Homo sapiens: one gene and its partners. The protein of the gene in region 1 purifies or fractionates together with the protein of each later gene. This does not show direct contact. Each region holds a gene or a part of one and is shown on either strand. Other genes may lie near its edges.

Region 1 (6,900 bases):
ACCCTCCGAGGCACCGAGCCCCATGATGAAGGTAATCTCAGATCAATGGGGTGTCACCTGTGAACTCCCAGGAGGGCCCCCTGGCAGGCACTTCCTGTCCCTGGGAGCCTCGCTAAGTGTCTGGGGGCTGGGCGGCCCCCCAACCTTTCCTGCACAGAAAAGCAAGCTCACATGGCCTGGCGCAGCCTGCTCATCAAACAAGCCCCGAGCAGGTGCTGTGGCCAAGGGCCGGCTGAAGGCCTGGCCCAGGGGAGCTGCAGGGAGCCAGGAGACCCCAGACCACCTTGAGAGGCAAGCAGCGTTGGCCAGTGAAAATCAGCCTCACCTGCACCTGTACCTGTGGTGGCTCCTATGTAACAAGTGGACTAGACCATCACTGACCCCCAGCAGCCTGGAAGAGGCCCAGACCCGTGTGTCAGGGGTGAGAGGGGCTGTCCCTCCGAGAAGAGAAGCAAGACTTAGGCAGAAGGGGTACAGGGCCGGGGGCTGCACACAAAGACCCTAGGAGAATCCTATGCCCCAATTCAGGGAACATCTTGCAAATATGAGGGGCTGGGGTGGGAGGCAGCTCGTCAGAAAAGCACTGAGAAATGTGGCAGGGCAAGTGGCACAGCGACTACTTCAAGGCCTAGGTACAACCTTGTGAGACTGCAATGCAACCAGCTCCTGGAGCACAGTGGGACTGATGTACATTCCTAACAAGAACCTCAGGCTCAATACAGTCAATAATTAACCTAAAGGAATCAGCTTCACAAAGAGCCAGGGTTTGACCAACTTCTCAGAAAGATCAGCCACTGCTGCACATGGCAAAGCCCCAACCTACTCTACCAGGCCCAGCAGAGCACAGGAGGTGAAATGCTTCCTGCTAGGCGATGCTGACCTCGACCTAGCCACCTGACATGCCACCACCTGTCTGCTTTGGGCAGGGTAGGAAAGGCTTCCAGTTAAAGTACAAAACACTTTTCAACCAAGCTATGCAATATCCTAAGTGATCCACCTTAAGTGGAGAAAGCCTCCCTCCAACCAGGCCACCCAAGAAATAAGGGACTGGTCGCTAGAAATAACAGAAGATCCTAAGGATGTGAGCTGGTGAGTCAGTCCAGGTAGGTGCTTGTTTACTTTGCTCTTCCAATATAAGAAAGTGGTGTGAAAATTTTCACTGATGATTAAAGCTCACACACATCCCCAAGAGATAAAACGAATGCCCCTATGGAGAGGGTTCCCTTTCAGAACCTAACCACTGGCTGGTATTCAAAGTGGTTTGGATTTCATCAAAATAACCACAGCACCCCTCCTGGCCTGAGAAGTTCCCAGAATCTGAGGCAGGGGAGAAAAAGTGCACAGCCTGGGCCAGCATCTCACCTTTGAACTAGTGGTGATTTGATGACACTCGTCACCACTCTACTGGTGTTTCCAAGAAACACTGGATTTGAGGGTTACGGCAAAAAGCCACCACTATCTCTGCTGTGTAGTCTCCTAGCCAAGGACGAAAATGCAAAGGGAGAGGACAGGCCTCTCATCCACAGAGGCGTCACAGTCACGGTATGGGGCTGCAGCACGCACTGCCACCCCAGACACAGGCATCACAACGATTCTGCAGAAAAGCTGGGGCTTAGCGGCCCCATCACTCAATCAGCCGAGCATTCGAAACCAGGTCTGCCAGGCAGCAAAGGCTAAATGGTATTTTAAAAAGGTGTCGCTTCTGAGTGTATGTGTTCAAGGAATCTCTAGGTAAAATACAAGCATAGCTTCCATGTAGAAGGTAAGCTTCATTAAAGGATAAATAATTAAAACGTGCTAAATTGAGCCTTACATATGAACCATCAAAATCAACTGTAAACAGTGAAATCTACAACAACAAAGAGGTACTGTTCAAGAACATTCTCCCTACCTCTCAAATTATGCACAGACGACAACCGACCCACCGAATTTAACACGGGCGGCTCTGCGTCCTTCCCATTCGTCTTTGTTACCTTGAACACTCCTGCTAGGTAGGTACAGGCAGGTTCCATTCTGACTTTTGGACTGGGAAACTGGGGTGCAGGAGGGCCCCATGGCACGGCCACAGAACTTGAATGCAAGGCCCTTCCCTAGCGGGTCGGTCTCGAAATTAAGTCAGCTAAAACGAGAGTGTGCGGCGAGGAAGCGCTGGGCGGACGGATCAACACCCCGGGCCCCGTGCCGGACCCCACTGCCAGGCCCGAGCCCCGGAGCTCCACCGCGCAAGCGCCGGGCGCCCGGGAAGCCTCGCCCGAGCCAAGCCGAAGCTTCCGACCGAAATAATTACAGTCTTACACCAATTTGTGTTCCAACGTAAATTACTAAGTAAGTCGAACGGAGGCTAACTCCACTCACAAAGCCCAGAGGCCCACATGGCAATTTTTCTAAGCCCTGCGCAGACCGCAGCGCCCCGGTGGGTCCCGGGCGGGCCGGACGCGCCTCCCAAGGGCGCGGGTCCGAGGCGCAAGGCGAGCTGGAGACCCCGAAAACCAGGGCCACTCGGGGAGTGTCAGGAAGCACGACTGGGCGCCTTAGGACGTCCGGGCAGACGCGGCCCCCGAGGAGCCCCAGAGGAGCCCCAGAGGAGCCGCCTGACCCGGCCCCGACGTGCGCGATCGAGCCCGGGCTCGCCAAAGCCCCCGCGCCCCTCCGGCCCGGACAGGCCGAGTGGACATTGTCGGAGCCCCGCGGCCTCGCCGGCAATTGGTTTCCCCCCCGAAGCTGCTCCGGGGGTGAGTTCGGGAGAGAGAGGCAGGACCCCGGGACCAGAGCACCCCGACCCCGACCCCAGCCCGGGCCCCAGCCGCCCCAGCGCCCCGCCCGGGCCGCTCACCTGTCGTCGACGTGCAGGCTGGGCGAGCACTTGATGGCCAGCCAGGTCTTCCAGTGGACATGGCGCACCTTGTACACCTGCCCGAAGCCGCCCGAGCCCACCTTCTCCCAGCCCGTGAACTCGCCCGCGTCGAAGGTGCGCAGCAGCGCCAGGGCCCATGGGGTCCCGCCGTCGCCCTCCATCGCGCACGTCTAGCCAGCGCCGCGGCGGCTGCCCAGGTGCCCAGGTGCGCGCTCCGCCCTGTTACGTCACTTCCGTAGGTCGTCCCGCCCCCAGGCCCCGCCCACTTACCCGCCCCCCGGGCGCCCTCTCTGCCAGCGCCCGGTGACTGCGGACGGATGAATAGACGCTGCGGGTCACTGCGCTCTCCCCTGGGTGAGCAGAGCTTCTCACGCTTCTCACGGGTCTCGACGTGCGCATCAGCTGCCCTGCTTTTCTTTGCTTTTTTTTTTTCCTTAATTGCGGAGTCACATGCAGTTGTAAGAAATCATTCACTTTGCCTAGTTTCCCCCAGTGTTACCACTTTGCAAAACTTTGCCAAAAAAAAAAGTCCAATCTCACAACCAGGATATTGACTTTGATACAGTCACCGATCTTATTCAGTTTTGCCGTTTTACTCGTCTTCCTTTGCATGTATTAGTTTTACACAATGTAATCATCTGTGTACCTTCCCGTATCCACCCCCACCTGGCCACTCCTGTGGCGATTTTACAGCCGCACCCCGGAGCCCTGGCATCACTAATCTTTCCTCTATTTCTAAAATTGTTTTATTTCAGAAATGTTATGTTTAGATACAGGAATCATACAGCGCCTAATTTTTTGAAATTGGCTTTCTTCACTCGTTAGTCTAATTCCCTGCAGGTTCACGTCTTGCTTTTTTACACGAGTTTCCTCTCAGAAAGTAACTTTTTTTAAAAAATTACCCAACAGCAAATCTAAAGTCCATTTCAAATGCAAGAGTTCCCTCATCCTTTCCTAAATAACAGCCTCTTTTTACAGGTAGAACAGATGGTTTGAAAAGGAAAGATTTTTTTTTCACATATGGGGAAAAAAAATTCCCAGCCTTGGAAGGATATTTGGGTTAGAGGCCGAAGTGCATCACAGATCACGCACGCGTCCACACCTCAGAAAACACTCACTCATTCCTGAGACGCAACGGTGAGTGAAGGCTTATTTTTGGCCACAGGAGATTAATAATGAAGACAGGAGGGCGGAGCTAAAGGAGAGGGTATTTTAACGACATTAACTGTGTTTTTGTGTTAGTAACTCGGAAAGAGAGAGGCTGCCCCAAGTCAGCGCATTGAAAGCCGCAGACCTAGTGTCTCCAGGCTCCCCCTTCCAAACGGGCGCGGACCTTCTTTCATAGCCTGTAGCGGGGAGCCGCGTCTCCCCACTGCCTCCCCACTCCCATCCGGCCGCTCTTTGGAGGGAACTCACACATCCCAACATGACGATGCTTGCTCGGGGGGCCTCCTGGGGGGACCAGGGAGCCACTTCCTTTCCCACATACTCCGGAAATTAAAGTTGGTCTCCTTAAGGCTGGAGTGGCAAATAGTTGTTTTAAGCTTGTCACAAATGTAACTTACATTTGGACTAATGTTTTAAAAAATAATTGGAGTTTTGAATCTACGAAGATACCTTGGAAGTAAACATAGTTATTATTTTGGTGGGAAAAAAATGAATGGACTTGAAAGTGAGTCACCTGTCCTGTTCCCGGGGCTCAGCTCTAGCAAAGTACCTTTCTCCATCTACAGTCTCCGGCACACAGCTCCGCAGCTGGGGGTGACTAAGAGCCCACACCACGCAAGTAATAAAACGCTCCAATTTCATTTATTTAATCATCTGTGTGCTTCATTTGACAAATATTTATGGAGTGTCTGCTGCTAGCTCAGTGCCTGGTGCCTGGGACTGAAGACCAGAGCCCCCTGGAGACCAAAAGAGCCAGCTCCCAGCTGTGAGCAGATCGGGTCCAAAGATCACGGGCTCGGCGGCAGGAACCTGGTTTGGTATCCGGCTCCTCTGCGGACTTTGAAGTGCTTTACCGATTCACATGACAACTGGTAAAACGAAAACAAACACCTTTCCAGGAATTGTGAATTCGAGTTCCAGACCCTCTGGGATTCCGGGAGCGCAGCTGCTATTTATGTTAACAGTCATTGGTCCCAGGCTGGTGAGGTTAGAATTTCCAAGTATAAAAGTAATTTAGTTTCGTTTTAAATACATTTTAGGGCCAAAGAAAAGTGGAACGATTTAAAGAAAAAGATGAAATGAATAATAGGGCAAGTTGGGAGGTGGCTGTCCTGAGGTTTCATGGGACAACATTAATTAACCTCATGAAGTGCCTGCATGGACAACGTGCCCGGTGTGGTTACAAACAAACCAATCAGCACAGATCCTGGGTGGAAAGCAGGGCGCAGCCACGGAGGCACAGTAGGGGTGCAGACTTGAAGGTTTTTAGGAGGTAAGCCCCGAGGGCACGAAGCTCCACGGAGAGACTGTTGACCCGCCTGGGAGTGCAGTGCAGGTGAGGAGGGGAGGGACGACGAGGGGAGACAATGGGGGGTGGGAGGTGGGAAGGAGGAGTTGGGGAAGGGGGCTGTCTGCTGACATTTGCAAGCCCCCACTCCCCCACTACCCTGTGTTCCTCCTGGCCCCTTCCCCAGAAGAATTCCAAGCCAGTTTCCTCCTATACTGGATGTCCTGACAGCGAATCTAAATAGGTGATCCCTTGAGCTCCAGGTCCCCAAGCTGTGCCCTTCTTCATAGGGGGCCATTTAGCACTGACCCACCCAGCAGGCAGCCCAAGGTCCCTGGTCTGGAAGTGCCAGGAAGCTGCCTTTAACATCCTACCGCAGGGAACAATGAAGGTTGCCGGCCAGGGAGAAGACAGGATAGAGACGTCTCTGGGTTTGCAGCCAGCCTGCCTCAGATGGGGTCCCAGGCTGTGACCATGGTGCATTTGCCTGTCCCTGACATGTGGGATAGAGGGACCTGCTTCGAGATGTCGGTGGGGATCCACGCAGATGATAATTATATGTGTGTGGCACATGCCAGGCCATGGGTGAATAGTGAGATTTTCAATTGAGTCATTTTCGTCTTTGTCCTTCTCAGGGTCCTGGAGCAACTCAACCCTTGTAAGTGCATGGCTCAGTGAGATCGTGGAGCTGACATAGGGCTGACCTGGCTCTCAGAGGCCCCAGAATAAAGCTGGAGCCCCTGGGGTCCACCTGCTGGCATGACCATGGGACAGGGGCGTGGAGCTGAGCTGGGTCAGCCACCTGGGAACATAGTCCCCTCCCGCCAGGCCTCTGCACCCAGCCTCCTCCCTGCTTAGTAGGCTCCTCCCTCCCCTACAACAGCCACTCCTGCCACCACTTGCATGGTTGTTTTTGAGAATTCCCTCCGCATTGTGTTATTTTCTAAAAGAACATAACTTGTTCACTGCAGAGATTCTGCCTTCACTAATTCTGACAAAGTGATTTAGGGGAGACATTGAGGGCCTGACTCGCGAGGGCTCCCAGACCACCTCTGGGAGACCCATCTCCACCTGACACCCAACTCCTCGCTCTTACTCAAGCAAATATTTTCTATTTACACAAACACTTCCTTATCAGAGACAGCTCCTCCTTTGACCCATTGGTTCCATGAGTCTTCCTGCAGGATCATACATTCCGTGTCCTGGGAACACAGCATAAAGGGTGCTGTTCAGCAACCTAGGGGCTTGTGTCTGATGGCAGAAGCCATGAAGCAGATGGGGGATGAATTATAATTGTAGTAATGCTACGTTCTAATCTGCTTTGCACCCTCATGCTCCACTCCATAGTCTTTAAATGTGGGGCTTCTTAAAACACCAATTTGGAGCCTCCCTGATCCTCCCCTCTTTCCCCAGGCAGCTCATCCAGGCTCACCTCAGCTTCCATGTATTCTACGAAGATCCCTAAGCTTCTGTCTGCAGGCCAGACCTTTCCTCTGAGCCTCAAACCCCCAAAACTTAACATGGTGCCCACAGTAGGATGTACCTAAGGCACCGCTACCCATTTGAGATAAGCCTATGCTTTTCACCCCCA
Region 2 (7,035 bases), on another chromosome or scaffold:
TCGCCATGTTGGTCAGTCTGGTCTCGAACTCCTGACCTCGTGATCCACCCGCCTCGGCCTCCCAAAGTGCTGGGATTACAGGCGTGAGCCACCGCGCCTGGCTTTCACATAAGGTTTTAACTGCCCCTAGAAACTAACCAATACTACCTGGCGCACTCATTAAGCCCTGGGTTGACAGGCTTATGAGTGCGTGAGAGGTGAGAGGCTGTGCTCTATGAACGCTGCCAGGCTCTCCATAACCATTCTCTGGTGGGCCAGCTCCTTGGCACGGAATTTGCCCTAAGTTCATGCAGTGGCAACCCAGCAGACGACTGGGGGCAGCTGATGATCCCTATGTTAATCATATACCCTGACAGGGTCCTCCCGCGAAGCAGCAGTAATCCCACAGTTGCCATTGTCCTAAATGACATAACAGGGCCGTCTCTAGCTACAAAGATGGTTTCCATCTGACAACCATCAGAGCCCAGGATGTGCGGTGAAAGCCATGAGGAGCAACATGAGGGACGACAACCAGGTCAAAGGATTCAGCAGATGCAGGGCTCCTGACATGAACCCACAGCCCGAAACATCTCCCGGAGAAACCTGGCTTGGCAAAAGGAAGGCTGTAGTTACCTTTCAGACTGGGGAAGGGCGTGGCCTTCTCTCGGGCACCTTTGGTGGGCAGTGTGAGGTTTGAAAGACTGAAGCTGGTACTGTGGTTCCGATAGAGGCTGCCTATCAAGGGGAGGGTGCAAGAGCGATGACTTGGCAGAGTAAGTAATCAAAGCAGTAGACTAATGACTATCAGCATCTGCACCTCCCTCCTTTTCAAACACAATCCCAGTTTGGTGGATCAGATCATCTCTGATCTGTCTTAGAAAGGATCAAGTCTAACTCCAGGCAAACAATGGAGCCACTGCCAGGATCAGCCAAAACCCAGTAACAGCTTTCTCTGTCCACCTCACATGATAATATCCAAGTCTCTCATCCACTGCTACACAGCATGAAAGCTGGCAGTTAACAGGCTTCTGGTCTGAAGCTGGCACTGTCCCTCCCTGGCTGCTGAAGAAACTCACAATCACAGGGATCCTCTACGTTCGCTCTCTCTAGTCCATGGTCTGTCTTCAATCTTTAGCTGATACGACCCTGCACTGCTGGGAATACTATCTAAGCACAAAATTCAATCTCATATCGATTTCAAAGCACATTCATGGAAGAGTCCGTTATGAGGCAAAGAAGATACCAGATATGGACTCAAATCAAATTTGACCAGAGTATTTCCACAAAATATAAGTACAAGTGTGTGATTTTGAATTTACTGCCTGTTTTCCAGTTACCCATCCAGCTGTCTTACCTGAAATAGACTGAAATGTCCAGGCATAATGACTAATCTGTCCCTGTCCTTTACTGACCTCACTTGAAAACGCCTTATTCAGTATCACCCAAATGACTGGATTAGGGCTTGCTAATGCCAACCTAGCCCTACATGTGAAGTTCTAAGCAACATTTGCCATAGTCAGGCTCTGCTGTAGAGAAAATGGAACACAGGAGTGAGAGAGACAGCTGAAGGCACTTACTGGCAAAAGACATGATGCCCCCGAAGCCCTCGGTGCTGGTGTTGGAGACGGTGGAGTTGGGAGAGCTTGCCCGAGAGTCTGACTCTGCATCTGAGTCACTTGCCAGTCTCAAGCTGTTGGGCCGCAGCAGCTTTTGAGCCCTTGAATGCACAGAGGCACCTATGATCCCCAGGCAGGGGTACCTGATCTTGGGAGTATGGGCCATAATTATGCTATACTACAGTTGCCACTCCCTTCCCGTAATTCCTAAGCCCCTGGATCAGAACACCATCCTCTGGGGATGGCAGGACCACGAGAGCATTCAGACTTCTCAGACTTTCTGATTAACCCTTGCCCAGGGTCCACTGAGGTGAGGTCCTTCAGTCACCCATCTAGAAGGGATGCCCAGGCTCTCACCGATTGCCACTGACATGTTGGCTGAATCGGGGAGTGTAACTTTCCCCCTGCTCATCCTCATCTTCCTCAGGGGGAAAGCCATATTGGGGCTCGAAGTATGGATTGTCATAGATTCGCCGGCGCACTGACCCCTCTCCAATTTCTGCCTGACGTCTGTCCACGTTCGATTTGCCAATGCTGGGAGGCACGGAAGGGAGGGGCTTGGAGACGCCTACTGCTGCCTTATCATCCATCTCCGTAGAGTCAGCAGGTTCCTAAAGGCCGCATGAAATTAAAAGTGGTTACCTGGTGCCCAATGGTACCTTCCTGTAATCCCAGTTTGGCAGGGCTGGACCAGGCCTGTCAGATTTCTAGCCTAAGGAATGTGTGGGAAATGATCTCTGTAGCACCCGTTCTCTGTCCCCACAAACTATATAAGGGGGATCATAGCTGTACCCTGAACAAAGCCTGATGACCTCCTTTTGGGGTCAAAAGTAGGTCTCTTAGGCTCTAAGCTCTAGGGCCCATGAAGAGGAAGATGAGAAAATTGTGTGAGAAGCAGCAAATGAATAGCTACAGCCTGGCTTTCCTAATAGATGAGGCCCACATCCCAGGCCATGGTTCTCACTCATCCACCGCTCCTCACTTACAGAGTTGGCTCCGTGGATGACAGTGCTGGGGCTGCTGCTGGCTGTGGTGCTAGAGCTGGAGCGCAGTGGGGGGTTTTCCTGAGAGTTCTCACTGTCTGGGCCAGGCTCTTCTGCTTCCTTCTGATTCTGCAGCTCGTCAATCTCCACCTCGCTGGCATCCCCCAGTGCTGCATGTGTCAGAGGGTCCACATCTGCCAAAATCCAAGGGAGGCAGGTACAGACCACTCCATCCTTGGGCCCCCAACCCCTGCCCAGGGCTGGCCAATCTCCCCAAGCACACTTACTGGGAGTATCACCATTAATGTCACATTTCATCATTTCACTGACAAAGTCACCAAGGGAGGAGTAAGAAGAGCTTGAATCGTCATAATCCATACTATCACTGCCACTGCAGAGTGAAGTGCATAAAAAACAAACAAAACAGAAAGGGGCAGGGAGAACACCTACAATCAGCACCAGGAAAAATAAAAGGGGGAGCACTCCGAACTCAAGGCCAGGGAACAAATCAAATAAAGAAGCCAAGAAAAACAGTCAACCAAAGCATAAAGACTGATATGGGGGCCGGGACAGTGGCCCATGCCTGTAATCCAAGCACTTTGGGACGCTAAGGCGGGTGGATCACCTGAGGTCTGGAGTTTGAGACCAGCCTGGCAAACATGGTGAAACACCATCTCTACTAAAAATACAAAAAGTAGCCGGGTGCAGTGGCTCGCGCCTGTAATCCTAGCACTTTGGGAGGCCGAGGCAGGCGAATTGCTTGAAGGCATGAGTTTGAAACCAGCCTGGCCAACATGGTGAAACCTTGTCTCTACTAAAAACACAAAAAATTAGCTGGGCGTGATGGCATGTGCCTGTAATCCCAGCTACTCGGGTGGCTGGGGCAAGAGAATCGCTTGAACCCGAGAGGCGGAGGTTGCAGTGAGCCCAGATCACGCCACTGCGCTCTAGCCTGGGCGACAGAGCAAGACTCCATCTCAAAAAATATATATATACAAAAATTAGCCAGGCAAGGTGGCAGCACCTGTAGTCCCAGCTACTTGGGAGGCGGAGGCAGGAGAATCACTTGAACCTGGGAGGGAGAACTTGCAGTGAGCTGAGACGGCACCACTGCACTCCAGACCGCGTGACAGAGCAGCAAGACTCTGTCACATACATACAAAAATAAATAAATAAGGCCGGGCGCGGTGGCTCACGCCTGTATTCTCAGCACTTTGGGAGGCCGAGGCGGGCAGATCACAAGGTCAGGAGATCGAGATCATCCTGGCTAACACGGTGAAACCCCATCTCTACTAAAAATACAAAAAATTAGCCGGGCGTGGTGGCGGGCGCCTGTAGTCCCAGCTACTCGGGAGGCTGAGGCAGGAGAATGGCATGAAGCCGGGAGGCGGAGCTGGCAGTGAGCCGAGATTGCGTCACTGCACTCCAGCCTGGGTGACAGAGCGAGACTCCGTCTCAAAAAAATAAATAAATAAAATAAAATAAAATTAAAAACACTGATATGGGAAGCCTATGAGACTTTGCCTTCTCTGTGCTAAAGAAGGGCTAGTGAGAGCCTCCTCACCTTTAAAACCTTTTTGCTGCCCTAAGGATGCTCACCTATCATCAGTAGGTTCGGAGTCAGAGTCCCGCTCTGGTGGTACACTCAGGGCCTCAGCCAGCTGGGAATTGCTGTCATAGACGCGATAGTGGATAGGCTGCAGCTGATGAGCATACCACTTTGGCTTGTCACCAATCAGGGCTGGATCAAACATATCTACCCCATGAGGGAAAAGAACAGAAAGTCAGCAGCAAGGAAAAAAAGGCAAGCAACGCCTGAAAGAAAGGCAGGAAAAAGTCTAAAGCAGAGCCAGGATAGAAGGCACAGGTCAAACATTAGCAAAGGAAAAATCAAAGTCCATCAGGAGGACAGAGGCACAAGGCAGAGCGGAGCAGAGGGCAGGTAGACTCACTGTTGTGAATTCGCTGAAAGGCATAGTTGGTGGGGTTAAGGATCCATTCCCCAAAGTACTCCACAGCCTGAGTCCTGGCCAATTTCTCGGCAAAAGGAGTCTGCCGGGGACGTGAGGCTAGAAAGGAGCCAGCTTGAAAAGCTACCACAGGCCGAGGAAAGAGGCGCAGGGTACGCGTGTGCATCTGAAATCCCTGCAGCACGTTGGCGGAATTGAAGAACCGTACCATGGCAACCCTGGGGAAGCAGATGATGAGATAATCTGAGACCCATAGGGTAAGGATTCCCATGATCCAAAGTCTTAGAACACCTCCCAAAGCCATCACTTAACAGGCTTCCAACATCAAGGGGAGAGATATCTTAAAGAATCATCAGCCCCCTCTTCATCCTGAGCACGTGGTTTACTATTTCTTCACTTTGATTTTACTAAGGTGGAAAATAACAACCAAATATAGTATATATTTTATACATAAAGAAACCCTGGGCTGGGTGCGGTGGCTCACGGCTGTAATCCCAGCACTTTGGGAGGACAAGGCGGGTGGATCAACTGAGGTCAGGAGTTCCAGACCAGCCTGGCCAACATGGTGAAACCCCGTCTCTACTAAAAATGTAAAAATTAGCCAGGCGTGGTGGCAGGCGCCTGTAATCCCAGCCACTCAGGAAGCTGAGGCAGGAGAATCACTTGAACCCGGGAGGTGGAAGTTGCAGTGAGCTGAGATTATGCCATTGCACTCCAACAAGAGTGAGAATCTATCTCAAAAAAAAAAGGAACCCTGGTTCAGAGAAATAGTCTGCCCCAAGGTCCCTTAGAGAGCAAAGAAATTAATTTAAGAACTTGTGATTATACAGTCGGCTTGGTCTTACCTGGTTGCAACATCCACAGAATCCACATCATTGCCATAGATGAGTGGGTTGAATTCAGTGGACGGTGTGGACTGCAGGTCATTAGAAGGCCTTCCCAAGAGAAGGGGGATCTCCTGGCCCTCATGAAATTTCTCCAGATTGAGGATGGGCTGGGTGTTGAGACTCATGCTGGCCAAGGCCTGTGGAACAACAAGAAAATTCCTTACACAAGGAACGTCCCTGGGCAGCTAGCCAATCTTAACTCCAAGGAAAAGGCCTTCCTAAGGTCTGCTACCTCGTATTCTCTGGTCAAAAAGTTCTGCAACAAAGAACGGTGCTAATTTGCAAATCACGGCCAACCCATTTCAGACCTTTCATCTTTGAAATAAAAATCCCAATATTCTAGCCTTTAGAAAACAGTTTGAAATATGTAGCTCTCCATCTTAAGACAACCTAGCTCAAGGCAACTTGATCTTATCTGAAGTCCACGACAGTCGTTTGCAAAATTATTATAGTCATTAAATGTTTTTTAAAATTGGAATCTATGTGAAATTATATAGAATGGAAATTTGAAAACAGAGCTGCTCTGAAGGACACAGGAAGCAGAGCCTCAAATGCTCAGGGCTCCCAAGCTAAATCGGCCCCTCAGAGGCTCAATGGGGCAGCGTGAAGACCACTGGTCGAGAGCAGCAGTGCTTCTCAAATGTGAGTGAGGAGAAGAATCACCAGGGGAGGCTGTTAAAATGCAGATCCCGATTCAATATGCCTGGAGTGATCCTGCACTTTAACAAGCCCGAGTGATGCTAATGTTGCTGGTTCACAAACCACACTTTGAATAGCAGGAGTTAGAACACAGGATCAATGAGTCCAAGGATCTTAGCTCCTACAAACATTTAAAATATAATTCTGGCTGGGCACGGTGGCTCATGCCTGTAATCCCAATACTTTGGGAGGCCAAGGCAAGTGGATCACCTGAAGTTAGGAGTTTGAGACCAGCCTGGCCAACATGATGAAACCCCAGCTCTACTAAAAATACAAACAAATTAGCTGGGCACAGTGGTGTGTGCCTGGAATCCCAGCTACTCAGGAGGCTGAGGCAAGAGATTCGCTTGAACTTGGGAGGCAGAGAATGCAGTGAGCCAAGATTGTGCCACTGCACTCCAGCCTGGGTGACAGAGTGGGACTCCATCTCAAAATAAATAAATAAATTAATTAATTAATTTAATTAAATATAATTCCATTTATTAACCTCTCCATCTCATTAGTCATACTAAAGCAATCATCAAGACTGAAAACACAGCAAGTGAAGGCAGCTAGAGAACTTTCTGAACTTAAAATTCCCACTAGACTCTGCAGTAACAAGGTATCATATTATATTAGCAGTGATGAAGCAACTGAGGTGAGAGGGATGAAACACAATGACCCATTTAAACCCAAACATAGCATCTAGAGATACTACTAAGTACTTCAGACAACACAGAAAAAGATTTCTAAAGGCCCTTCAAATGAGAGCAGGGATTCCTAAAAATAAACACAGTGTTATCTACTGGTGTTCCTGTACAACACATAAGGCAGAGGAAGGGAATGAAGCTTTGTCATGTGTTACCTTCAGGTACTGTGTTCAGCATGCAGAGGAAGAAGAAAATCAATCAATAAAAAATGG
Region 3 (7,035 bases), on another chromosome or scaffold:
CCCACCCAACCTAGCAGGCAGCACCTGGCAAAACTACAACATAGGTATTGGGAGGAACAAGCTCGGGGCTGGTCCACACTCGGTGCTAGAACTGTCACATTTTACAAAGGAAAGACCCAGGGCAGCTGTCAAAATAGCCTGGGACCTATTTCATTAAAATAGCAGAAACCAACAACTGAAAATAGTAGGTGGCTTTTGGCAAACATAGAACCCCAATCAATCAGACCTGAGCTAGCTGTAAGTGGACGGAGATGCTGAACTTGACTCCCTCTGCAGCTCACACCATTTACCCAGCTTCCTCAATATTTATAGCATGAATAGCCATGAAGTTTTCTGTGCTCTTGATGAAAGGAGGAAGCTGGTGACTTCTGAAAAATATTTTGCCACTGTCTCATAGCAACAGATGTTCCAGTTAAATATTTGGGAGTTGTGAACTGAACATCTTCTGTACTGATACGGTGTGATGTTAGTCAGTGACTCCAGACAGTTAGCAGGAGGCTGCCAACTCTAAGCTTTTTGGCAGTGGGGCTGCAACAGGTCCCCAGGGTTTTCTCTGAGTCCCCCCTCTGGTTTCAAGCTCACAATGGGTGATGGAATAAGTGTCAAGGGTCTGTGCACTCCTGCCCCCTCTTCTAGCCCTGAATCTGGAAGAAAAAGTTAGAAATACAGAAAGAGGCTGGAAGAACGTTTACCTTTCTGGTGCTTCATTCTTTTCCCACAAAACTTTCCAACAATAGAGTAGGTATGACTGCTATGCAACCAGCAATTCATTACAGAAGTTTTTCTTTTCTTTTTTTTGAGACAGGGTCTTGCTCTGTCGCCCAGGCTGGAGTGCAGTGGCGCAAACACCGCTCACTGCAGCCTCAGCCTCAACCTCCCTAGCTCAAGTGATCCTCCCACCTCAGCCTCCTGAATAGCTGGGACCCCAGGTGCACACCACCACGCCTAGCTAATTTAAAAAAACTTTTTGTACAGAGGGTCTTACTATGTTGCCCAGGCTGACCTTCAACTCCTGGGCTCAAGTGATCTACTTGCCTCAGCCTCCCAAAGTGTTGGGATTACAGGCATTAGCCACTGCCCAACTGGGAAGTTTTCTTTTTTTTTTTTTTTTTGACAGGGTCTCACTCCATCACCCAGGCTGCAGTGCAATGGCTCAATCTCGGCTCACTGCAACCTCCGCCTCTCAGGTTCCAGTGATTCTCCTGCCTCAGCCTCCCGAGTAGCTGGGATTACAGGCACTCATCACGCCTGGCTAATTTTTGTATTTTCAGGAGAGACAGGGTTTCACCATGTTGGCCAGGCTGGTCTCGAACTCCTGACCTCAGATGATCTGCCTGTCTGCGCCTCCCAAAGTGCTGGAATTACAGGTAACTTTCACTTTTAAAAGTATACACTACTAATGTAAGTGAGTGTTTCCTAAATCATTTCAAACTCTATTTGGAAATGGAATGACACTGGTTTATTGTAATTTACCAACTCTAACTGGAACAATATGGTATAAAGCCAGTGAGGATGGATCATCTCCAGTTCACAGACAATTCTGCCTCTTTTACTGGAGAACGACTTAAAAACTATTTAGCTAAACAATATAGAATGTTTATACATTCTGGATACTTCTCCATTCTCCATAATATGTTATTTTAACAAATAAGCATATTCATTTAAACAAGTCACAATTCTTAACTCAAAATGGTGTCAACTTGCTAAAATTCCTATTAAAGACATATCATGTTAGTACAACCTGTTGAAAACTTAAAACATTCTGAATCAAAAATAGGGTTGCAAGTCAGATGAAGCAAAGATGCAAGAAGCAATTTCGGGGACAGTTTTTATGTGCCAAAGGTCATTTCTAACATTTTTGAAGGCTTACAGGGACAATTAGATAACTAAATGGGCACCATAGGTCTGTCTTAATTTGTCTTAATCTTCGTGATCCCATTTGTCAACAGCTAGAAAGACCTTACACTCTCCCAATGTTCAATTCAAATAAACCAAAGAAAACTCACAATTGCTAAAGTGGCAGCTGTGAGAAACTAGCTTCTCACCACTTCAATAGTTTGTGATGCACTCATGTCATAAAGATCAGTTCATGGCTTCGACTCTCTCTTGAGACCTGGCCAGGTCCTGGCTGCACTGCGTTGACTGCTGGTGGGTGAGGCCTCCTCGGGGCACCCATCCAGACTGGGTTGGGTCCCTCAGTTGCTGCCAGGCCTGGGGCAGACTGGGCCGGGGCCAGACAGCCATGACCTGCTGAAAACCTTCTCCATGAAAGCTGCCTTTTCCGTGACCACACCTTTGAGACAACTGATATCTTTTTTTTGACAGAGTTAAGGCATGCAAAAGCATATGAAAAATAATATGAATCTCTACACACCTACTACCCATTTAAGAAATAAAACCGGCCACTGGTACATGAAGCCCTGTGTAACAAGTGTGAGTGTGAACTTACTCAACTATGTAGAATTATATACTTTTTTCCTATTTTATCTCAAAAAGCAGTAATGGGTGTGGCATGAGTTTCGGCTAACCACCCTTCCCCTGGGAAACAGTGCAGCGTGCGCTGAGTTGCATTTTAATGTCCTGCCTTCCGGCTCCTCTATGCGTGAGTCCTGGCGTGATATGTGTGCAGGTTTCTCTGTTTTACGCTGACAATTTACGTCAGTGTAGAATAGAAGGGCCAAATTCAGAGCTGTTCTTACATTTCCTATAAAGTAGTTCTTAAAGCCCTGAGTCTCTCATAAAATAAGCATTCAGTTGCTACGTTTCTTTGAAAAGTTTAATTTCAGGCAAAAGTGCAGCAAAAACTACGCTCTCAGACACTGCTGGTGGCATTAATCCAATTGGAAGTGTGTAAAAAGGGCTTAAATCTCTTCACTCTTTGACCCAGTAATTTTGCTTTTTGAGAATCTATTCTGAAATCAAAGTGAGAAACAGACAAATTTAAGTGAATCAAGATGTTCAATATTCCTTTTAAGAGCAAAAAGCTGAAAAGAAACAGCTTCCTGATTATTGGCCATTATAAAGTTGCATAAAGAATTAATTACACATTATGGAGCTATTAAAAATTATGGATTTTAGAAACTAAATGTGAAATATGGTTTATAATATAATGTTCAATGGAAAAAGATATAAATGATACCATGATTACAATAATGAGAGTCAGCAAAAAGAAACAAAGGTGAAAAAAATACCTCAGTGCTGACAATAATTACACTAAGATGATGAACATACAGAATTTTTTTTTAACTCTAGTTTTAAACTTTTAAGAGTGTGGTTATATTAGTTTTTGCTAAAAAAAAAAAGCAAAGTTTAAAAAGCAAAGCAAAGTACAAATTAAAAATAAATACGAATCACTCAGGATGGTGGGGAGAGCTCCCTTTTAAATATATTAAAAGCATATATTCCCCTTTATGAGACAATGTCAGCTGTGTCACCTGCTGTGCTTCCTTTTTTGGATTTAGTTGCCAGAAACCCAGAGCTAAAATTAATTCTCAGCCACAGCTGAGCTCACAGTTGACTCTGTGTTGTAAACTGCTACATTTATGCCTGTCTTTTACTGTTGTTTCATATCCTTCTTTGAAGAAGGTATATATTTTACATATGTAAAACTTTAAGATCTTTTTTATCTATAAAAATTCACAGATATGCTTGTAACTGTTTCCCAATCTCAGGAAGGACTCCTGCGAGGGAGGCAGGCAGGGAGGGAGGTGGGTTTTCACTGTATGGCCTTTCCAGCTACGCACCATGTGCACACACTGCCTATCAAAGAAGAGGTGTGATTTCTAAAAGGTGTATTAGTTGGAAATACATGAATTGTGTCTGGTAAAGCTTACTGAGACTACGGTAGACTCAGCCAACTATAATTCAGACTCAAGAAATCTTAGCTGTCCGCTCGCTCAGATTCTCACCAAAAATCCACTGAACCTCAAGGAGAAGACTGGGCAGAATTCTACAACAAGTGGGGGAGATAGGGCCATTTCTTCTCGCAGATTCTTACAGGGGTCTGTGACCCCAAGATGCTTGGGGGGGGTCCTTCATTTCAGATAGTAAAATGAAGACCCCCAGAGAAGGGAACTGATGCTGCCAGCGGGCACAGAGCTAGGGTCAGCTGCTCAGTTTCCCTCTCCCGGTGCGGTGCTCTTTCTTCCTGGCTATGTTAACTCTGTGACCTGGGAATGTGGTCCAGAAAGAAGCTGTGGCTGCTGAGTCTATACCTACTTAGTAAGTGAGTTACTCAATGCTGATCTGTATAAAGTAGGATCGTCCTTTTTCCTTTCTCACAATACAGAATATTAATGTTATCCAAGTCAGGTCTTTATTACAGTACTCAGAGAGCAGTCCCTCTGAATTGACAAGGATGACACTGGGCAAGAGGAGCTCTCAGACACCCCCCGTGGGCATGCAAATGGATTCAGCTCTTCTGGAGGCCAATCTGCAATCTCTATGTGTGAGCATTTCTGCAGAACAGATTCCTTGAACTGGAACTCTTGGATGGAAATTATTGATTTGCTCAATCTACTAAGTAGTTCTCTGAACAGCTGTTATTTTCCCAAACACCTTCACCAACACTAGGTCTTAGCAGCTTCTGAAATACTGGCCAATCTGGTGGGAGAATATTTTGTTTTAATTCCCTCTTGCCTCTAGTTAGTAGTAAATTTTGTCCCCAGGTATTTATAGCTTTTATTACAGTTGTGAATAGGATGTGTTCCCCAGTGATTATTGCTTTTAATGTGATTCATCTGTTCCAGTTTGCCTGGGACCCTGGCAGTTTTAGCACTCAAAGTCTAGTGTCCTGGGGAACACCTCCCAGTTCCAGGCAAATCAGAAAGATTGGTAACCTGATCGCAAAACTATTAATTTCTGAATATTTTATCTTGTGTCTGGCTCCCTTACTGAAGTCTTGTAAGTGCTAGTCATTTTTCAGCTGATAGCCTATCTGGAAACTCCAAGAGAATCATTTCATCAACAAATAACACTTTTGTCTTTTCCTTTACATGATTTGCATTTTTTCTTTCTCTGGTTTTTGTGCACTGGCTAAAGCCTTCAGAACATGGAATAATTGTAGAGACAATGGACATCTGTTTCTTATACCTAATTCTGCTGGAAATGCTTCTGTTTCACCAGGGAGTGTAATGTTGCTATGGGTTTCTGGTAGATAATCTGTAAATAAAGGAAGTTTCTTTCTACTTCCAGCTTACATAGAAGTTTTTTTGTCCTCTACAAATCAGGAACACATCCAAAACTTTATCTTTTTTTTTTTTTTTTTGAGATAGAATTTCACTCTTGTTGCCCAGGCTGGAGTGCAATGGTGCGATCTTGGTTCACCCCAACCTCCGCCTGCTGGGTTCAAGTGATTCTCCTGCCTCAGCCTCCCGAGTAGCTGGGATTACAGGCATGTGCCACCACACTGGGCTAATTTTGTATTTTTAGTAGAGATGGGGTTTCTCCATGTTGGTCAGGCTGGTCTCAAACTCCCGACCTCAGGTGATCCGCCCGCCTTGGCCTCCCAAAGTGCTGGGATTACAGGCGTTAGCTACTGCTCCTGGCTTCCAAAACTTTAATCTTTTTTAAAAAATTGTTTCCTGCTGGGAGTCAGAAAAAAAACCCACTTTTTTGGGTCATCTATTAAGATGTTGTCTTTAATCTATTAGTAGACTTCTTAATGTTGAACCATCCTTGCATTCCTGGGATGTTGCTAGTATTTCTCAAACACTTATTTTGTACTAGACATTCTAAGTGTTTATTTAATCCTTACATCTCACTAAGAGGTAGACAGTCCCACTTGTGATGAGGAAATTAAGTCACAAGTAAGTTAAATAAGTCTAAGGCCACATAGTGAGTGGAAGGGCCAAAATTTAAACCCAGGGAGTCTGGCAGCACAGCCAGACTCCTAACCATTACACTGTCTGCCTCTCAGTCTTACTTGGTCACAATGTGCTATTAATATATTTTTTAAAAAACACAACTACATTTGATATTCTAAGTATTTTATTTTGGATTTTTGCATCTATATTTTTAAGTAAGTTTGATATACAGCTTTCACTTGTATGTTCTAGTAGAAGCTACCTAGCCTCATAGGAAATGTTGGGAAGTTTTCCATCATTTTCTCTCTGGAATGGTTTGGATAATGGGATTGTCTGTTACCCTCTATTAAACTATCTCTTCCTGGTGCCTTTTGAGAAAGGGGTTAGAATGTAGATTTTTCATGATGTATTTGATTCCTACACCATAGTGCTTTTAAGCCAGAATCAGTCTTCAAATTCTTCACATTTTCTTGGAAGACACTGCTTTTCACAGGTATTGGAAATATGTTTGATTGAGTGAGGAATTTTTTTTTTTAGCAATAATGTCAATAGATATGTGGTCTCTAACATTAAAATAGGTGGGAAACTTCCAAATCTGCCACCTATCCTGTAGGTTCTACTTGATAACACTAATGGTACCACTTCATGTAATTTTATATAATTTTCTTCAGAAGTCTGCAGAAAGATATGTTTTACTATCATTTTTTAGGTGGAAGAAGCAAGAAAAAAAGGATTTACCTAATTCTGATAAAACCAATATAGGAACCAAAAACAAATGGCAAAATAACTTTATAATGATGGGGAAAAAGAAGCTAATGTCTAAAATTGTTTCTTGGTTTTTGTTTTTTTGTTTTTTGCTATTTTTGAGATGGAGTCTCGCTCTGTCACCCAGGTTGGAGTGCAGTAGTGCAATCTCAGCTCACTGCAACCTCTACCTCCCGGGTTCCAGCGATTCTCCTGCCTCAGCCTCCCGAGTAGCTGGGACTACAGGCACGTGCCACCATGCCCGGCTAATTTTTTGTATTTTTAGTAGAGACAGGGTTTCACCGTGTCAGCCAGGATGGTCTTGATCTCCTGACCTCGTGATCCGCTCGTCTTGGCCTCCCAAAGTGGTGGGATTACAGGCATGAGCCACCGCGCCTGGCTTGATTTTTGTTTTTTAATCAAGAACTACCAGTAGAAGAATTTCATTTAGAGATATAGAGGTTCCTTCCCACCAAAAAAGTCAAGA
Region 4 (4,297 bases), on another chromosome or scaffold:
CTACTCCATAGGATTATCGTGAGGATTGAGTGAATCAATACATATTAAGCACATAGAAAAGTACCTAGCACATGGTAAGCATGCAATAAAACTTGTTGTTTTAAGCCTTTGATGCGATTTGCCTTATAATTAATTATGGTGTCTATACTACCTTGAGAAACACTAATTTAAGTCAAATCACCTCTGGGGACACATGAATGAGGAAGACATAATGGCACTTTCATCTTGTGAGCACAGCTCCATGACGTATCACAGTGACACGGGCTTAGTCTCAAAGCAAGACTAACAATCATAAGGGTCATAGGTAAATACTAAAGACAGTAAAAGTGGTGGGAAAAAGGAACTAGGTGTGGGAGAGGTGCCTTGGAGCGCTTAATGTCATTCTGTGAGTACAGTAGCTACACATTGCTTACCTTTGAATAAACGAGAACCCGATTACAATAAGAAGTAAAACATATGAACAGACTGAAATAAAACACAATAATCCATAAATATCACATAAGAAATGTTATCCAGAAATCACAGTTTGTGCTATCTGAAAACCATTTATTGCAACGACAAAACTAGAGGTTAATTACTTTTTATTATTGAATTATATTGTAAAGTCTACATCTACAATTTAATCAGGAAGAAATGCTTTGCATTTACATCAAGGACACATTTATTCTAATGGAATAAAACAGACACACACAAAAGACCAAGTACATGTTTTTAAAAAATGACTACATGTTTCACCTGGTCCTATTTTTGCTATTTGGACCATACTTTTAAGTGAATTGATCTTACATACATGTTAAGTCTGATTTATCTCCCCACATTTTTAAACACTAAATGAAGCTTCTCACAATTTCTAATTATAAACAAAAGGCTGAAAACAGTATGGGAAACAAAGTTTCAAAACAAAGAAAAGTTGAGTAAAAGGTGCCCCCTCTATGGCTCATCTGAAAGAAACATTTTACTCAGAGAGGCAAACATTTCTGATCTAGGAGTAAGTTTCCCACTCACTTTGCAAGGACCCACTCATTCTGCAGAAAGACCTACAAGTCTTTCTGGTCTCAATTGCAAAGTACGTGAAAATGTGTATGAAAGATCTAAAAGCTAAATATTAGAATAAGGCTAATTGAAATCAAAATTGTGTGCTGGTCTAAATATACATCTTCGGCTTCTTCCTTTTTAGTAAGTATTTTTATTTCAGATGTATTTAAAAATAACTTACATTTTTAGTGTGCTTTATGGTCAATGACTGTAAAGTTGAAACTCAAATGAGTCAGTTTAAAATTTTTGTCTCATTTGATTCTATTGAAATTTTAATCACCTACTACTTTAATCAAGTTATTCATGAGGTAAGTTTCAGCTTAAAAAAAAAAATCATCCACAAAGATAACCATTTCAAGAGTACACAAAATCATAATGCCGGCCGGGTGCAGTGGATCACACCTGTAATCCCAGCACTTTGGGAAGCTGAGGTGGGCTGATCACTTGAGGTCAGGGGTTCGAGACCAGCCTGGCCAACATGGTGAAACCCCGTCTCTGCCGAGGCAGGAAAATTGCTTGAACCTGGGAGGCAGAGGTTGCATCGAGCCCAGATCGTGCCACTGCACTACAGTCTGGGTGACAAGAGTGAGACTCCATCTCATAAAAAATAAAAAAATAAAAAATAATCATAATGCCCACCTCTTAAGAGTATACAACTTTATTAACTACTGCTTATGATGTAATATAAAAGCAAGTACTTTTTGTACTTTTTTATTTTTTTTGAGATGGAGTCTTGCTCTGTCGCCAGGCTACAGTGCAGTGACGTAATCTCTGCTCACTGCAACCTCTGCCTCCTGGGTTCAAACGATTCTCCTGCCTCAGTCTCCCTAGTAGACAGGACTACAGGCGCACATCATCACGCCCAGCTAATTTTTTTGTATTTTTAGTAGAGACGGGGTTTCACCATGTTGGCCAGGATGGTCTTGATCTCTTGACCTCGTGATCCACCCGCCCTGGCCTCCCAAAGTGCTGGGATTACAGGCGTAAGCCACCGCGCCTGGCCCTTTTTGTACTTTCTAATCAAATTATGCTGGGAAATATAGGGCAAAAAAAGCTCGGCAAAATTTGTTTCTGGTAACAAGACAATGCAATAATGAATCCAAATGAAACATAAGACCAGTGTTTACAATTTCTAACTTCTAAACAAACATACACACACTTATCTAAAACATATTTTGGTAGCAAACTGGATGACTGAATAAATGTTTTGCTGTAAATAAAAAATACAAATTTCCAATTATAGCCTTATAGCTAGCTAAACAGCTTTTCAAAACATGTACAGCTAGCCAACAATTCTCTAAAATATGTATGTTACACTAAAAGATCTCTGCTAAAAATCTACTGTATGTAAATGGGTCTTACTGAAATAGGACTTTCATGATACTGTGTCTTAAAAAGTGAGTATGATAGGGCTACAACAACATTACTATTAATAAAGGTTACAGAAGAGATTATTGCTGTACTTTTCCTCATAAACACCATCAAACTTTGTTGCAGTTACAAAAAGTACAACCAAGTTACTTTTCCTCTTACTGAATTTCATTATGTTTCACATATTTGCAGTTTTTATTCAGCAGAGAATAATTCTTAAAATCTTTTCTGTAAGAATTCTAAGTATTTAAATGTGTAGCTTCACATTATACTACCATGTTTCACCCTTCGTTTCCCAAATACACAAAAAACATATACATTTTTTCAAAAATGAAATAAGATGCCCACATTAAAAAAATAAAGCCTACAAAAAGTTCCAGAGCTAAAAAAGATTATTCATATGGCACAAAGTGATCTCCTACTAGTCCAAAGTTCAAAAACATTTTAATGAAGTCCATTTATATATATTTTGTTTGCTTTTCAATGAAATACTACATTTATTGAGGCGAAATCACATTATTTTTAGTTCTTGGAGTCAACAAGTGTACACAAATGTTTTTCAACAGTTATTGAAAATAGGAGACCAAGTTGAACGTGCCAAAGAGATACCATTCAGTTGGATTTTCTAGGGTCAACATGAAGAAAATTAGAGAAGGGATTTACTTGGTTGGTTTCCATAGCTTGATAGACCAAAAACAAAAAAACTGCCACAACAACAAACAGCAAAATTTTTATCCATACGGGAATGGAGCGTCCCTTTTTTGTCTTTTCTGACTTGACATCTGCCAAGGGAACATACTTAGGAACATATTTAGATGAAAAAGACTCCTCCATCCTGAAATCACTGAGTTCTAATGGCCGGCCTGCAGCCCCTTTGATTGGTCTGCGGCAACTAGCACTGTTGGGAGTGAAAGGAGGAAAAGAAAAATAATTTTAGATAAAGGCATGATTTAGAGAAATAACATAAAATGTCATTGCCACTCCTAATTCCAAGCACATTCCCTGAGGTAACAGTAGAAAATTGATACATATAAAGCAGTGAGGTCAGTCAACCTATTTAAAACTTCTACATATTTTCTATTTTAAAAGTTAGATGGGCTGGGCATGGTGGCTCGCGCCTGCAATCCCAGCACTTTGGGAGGCCAAGGCGGGCAGATCACCTGAGGTCAGGAGTTCAAGACTAGCCTGGCCAACATGGTGAAACTCTGTCTCTACAAAAATACAAAAATTAGCCGGGCATGATGGTGGGTGCCTGTAATCCCAGCTACTCAGGAGGCTGAGGCAGGAGAATCGCTTGAACCCAGGAGGTGGAGGTTGTAGTGAGCCGAGATCACGCCACTGTACTCCAGCCTGGGCAACAGAGCAAAACTCCGTCTCAAAAAAAAAAAAAAAGTTCGATGCATCCTTTATTAGAAAAGAATATTCAGAACACTGATAAATAGTCACTAAACCTGCCTTCTTAAAGGCTCTTCAAAGCTCATGTTTAGGAGTAAAGAGGAAAAACAAAACAGTTTTGGCTGTGTTTCTTTCAGTTAAAAATTAAGATACATAAACACAGCCTTTTCAATTAGAAAAGAGAAACTTAGGGGGGAAAAACTATTTCTCACTAGATTTTCGTTTAGATTTTAACATATGAATTTAAGTAGTAAGTAAGTGATTTATTTAAAATCCTCCATTTACCAATCGCAATTTTGAAACTCATTCAACTTTCAAGAATATTTACTGGTGGGCTTAGGGGAATTAAACTGCTCCCAAAAGAACAGTTCGTTCACTTATTTATTTAAAAGTCGGTGGGTAGACAGAGTCTCATTATGTTGCCCAGACTGGTCTCGAACTCCTGGGCTTAAGCAATCCACCTGCCTTAGTCTCTTGAGTAGCTGGGACTACAGGC

What was found.
Region 2: the proteins of RIPK4 (region 1) and MADD purify together in Homo sapiens (affinity purification with mass spectrometry; 2 studies listed by BioGRID). This does not show direct contact.
Region 3: the proteins of RIPK4 (region 1) and TUBB6 purify together in Homo sapiens (affinity purification with mass spectrometry, with the first as the bait; 2 studies listed by BioGRID). This does not show direct contact.
Region 4: the proteins of RIPK4 (region 1) and TMPO purify together in Homo sapiens (affinity purification with mass spectrometry, with the first as the bait; 2 studies listed by BioGRID). This does not show direct contact.

The regions. Positions count from the first base shown.
Region 1 is NC_000021.9:41,764,027-41,770,926, forward strand, and holds the start of RIPK4 (receptor-interacting serine/threonine-protein kinase 4), read right to left. Parts: upstream 3,027-6,900; 5' UTR 3,016-3,026; coding exon 2,834-3,015; intron 1-2,833.
Region 2 is NC_000011.10:47,280,112-47,287,146, reverse strand, and holds part of MADD (MAP kinase-activating death domain protein), read right to left. Parts: intron 5,573-7,035; coding exon 5,394-5,572; intron 4,767-5,393; coding exon 4,531-4,766; intron 4,335-4,530; coding exon 4,178-4,334; intron 2,970-4,177; coding exon 2,866-2,969; intron 2,773-2,865; coding exon 2,582-2,772; intron 2,207-2,581; coding exon 1,953-2,206; intron 1,697-1,952; coding exon 1,557-1,696; intron 715-1,556; coding exon 613-714; intron 1-612. UniProt on the Homo sapiens protein: Guanyl-nucleotide exchange factor that regulates small GTPases of the Rab family. Converts GDP-bound inactive form of RAB27A and RAB27B to the GTP-bound active forms.
Region 3 is NC_000018.10:12,311,231-12,318,265, reverse strand, and holds part of TUBB6 (tubulin beta-6 chain), read right to left. Parts: intron 1-7,035. UniProt on the Homo sapiens protein: Tubulin is the major constituent of microtubules, a cylinder consisting of laterally associated linear protofilaments composed of alpha- and beta-tubulin heterodimers.
Region 4 is NC_000012.12:98,546,580-98,550,876, reverse strand, and holds the end of TMPO (thymopoietin), read right to left. Parts: intron 3,305-4,297; coding exon 3,019-3,304; 3' UTR 526-3,018; downstream 1-525. UniProt on the Homo sapiens protein: May help direct the assembly of the nuclear lamina and thereby help maintain the structural organization of the nuclear envelope. Possible receptor for attachment of lamin filaments to the inner nuclear membrane.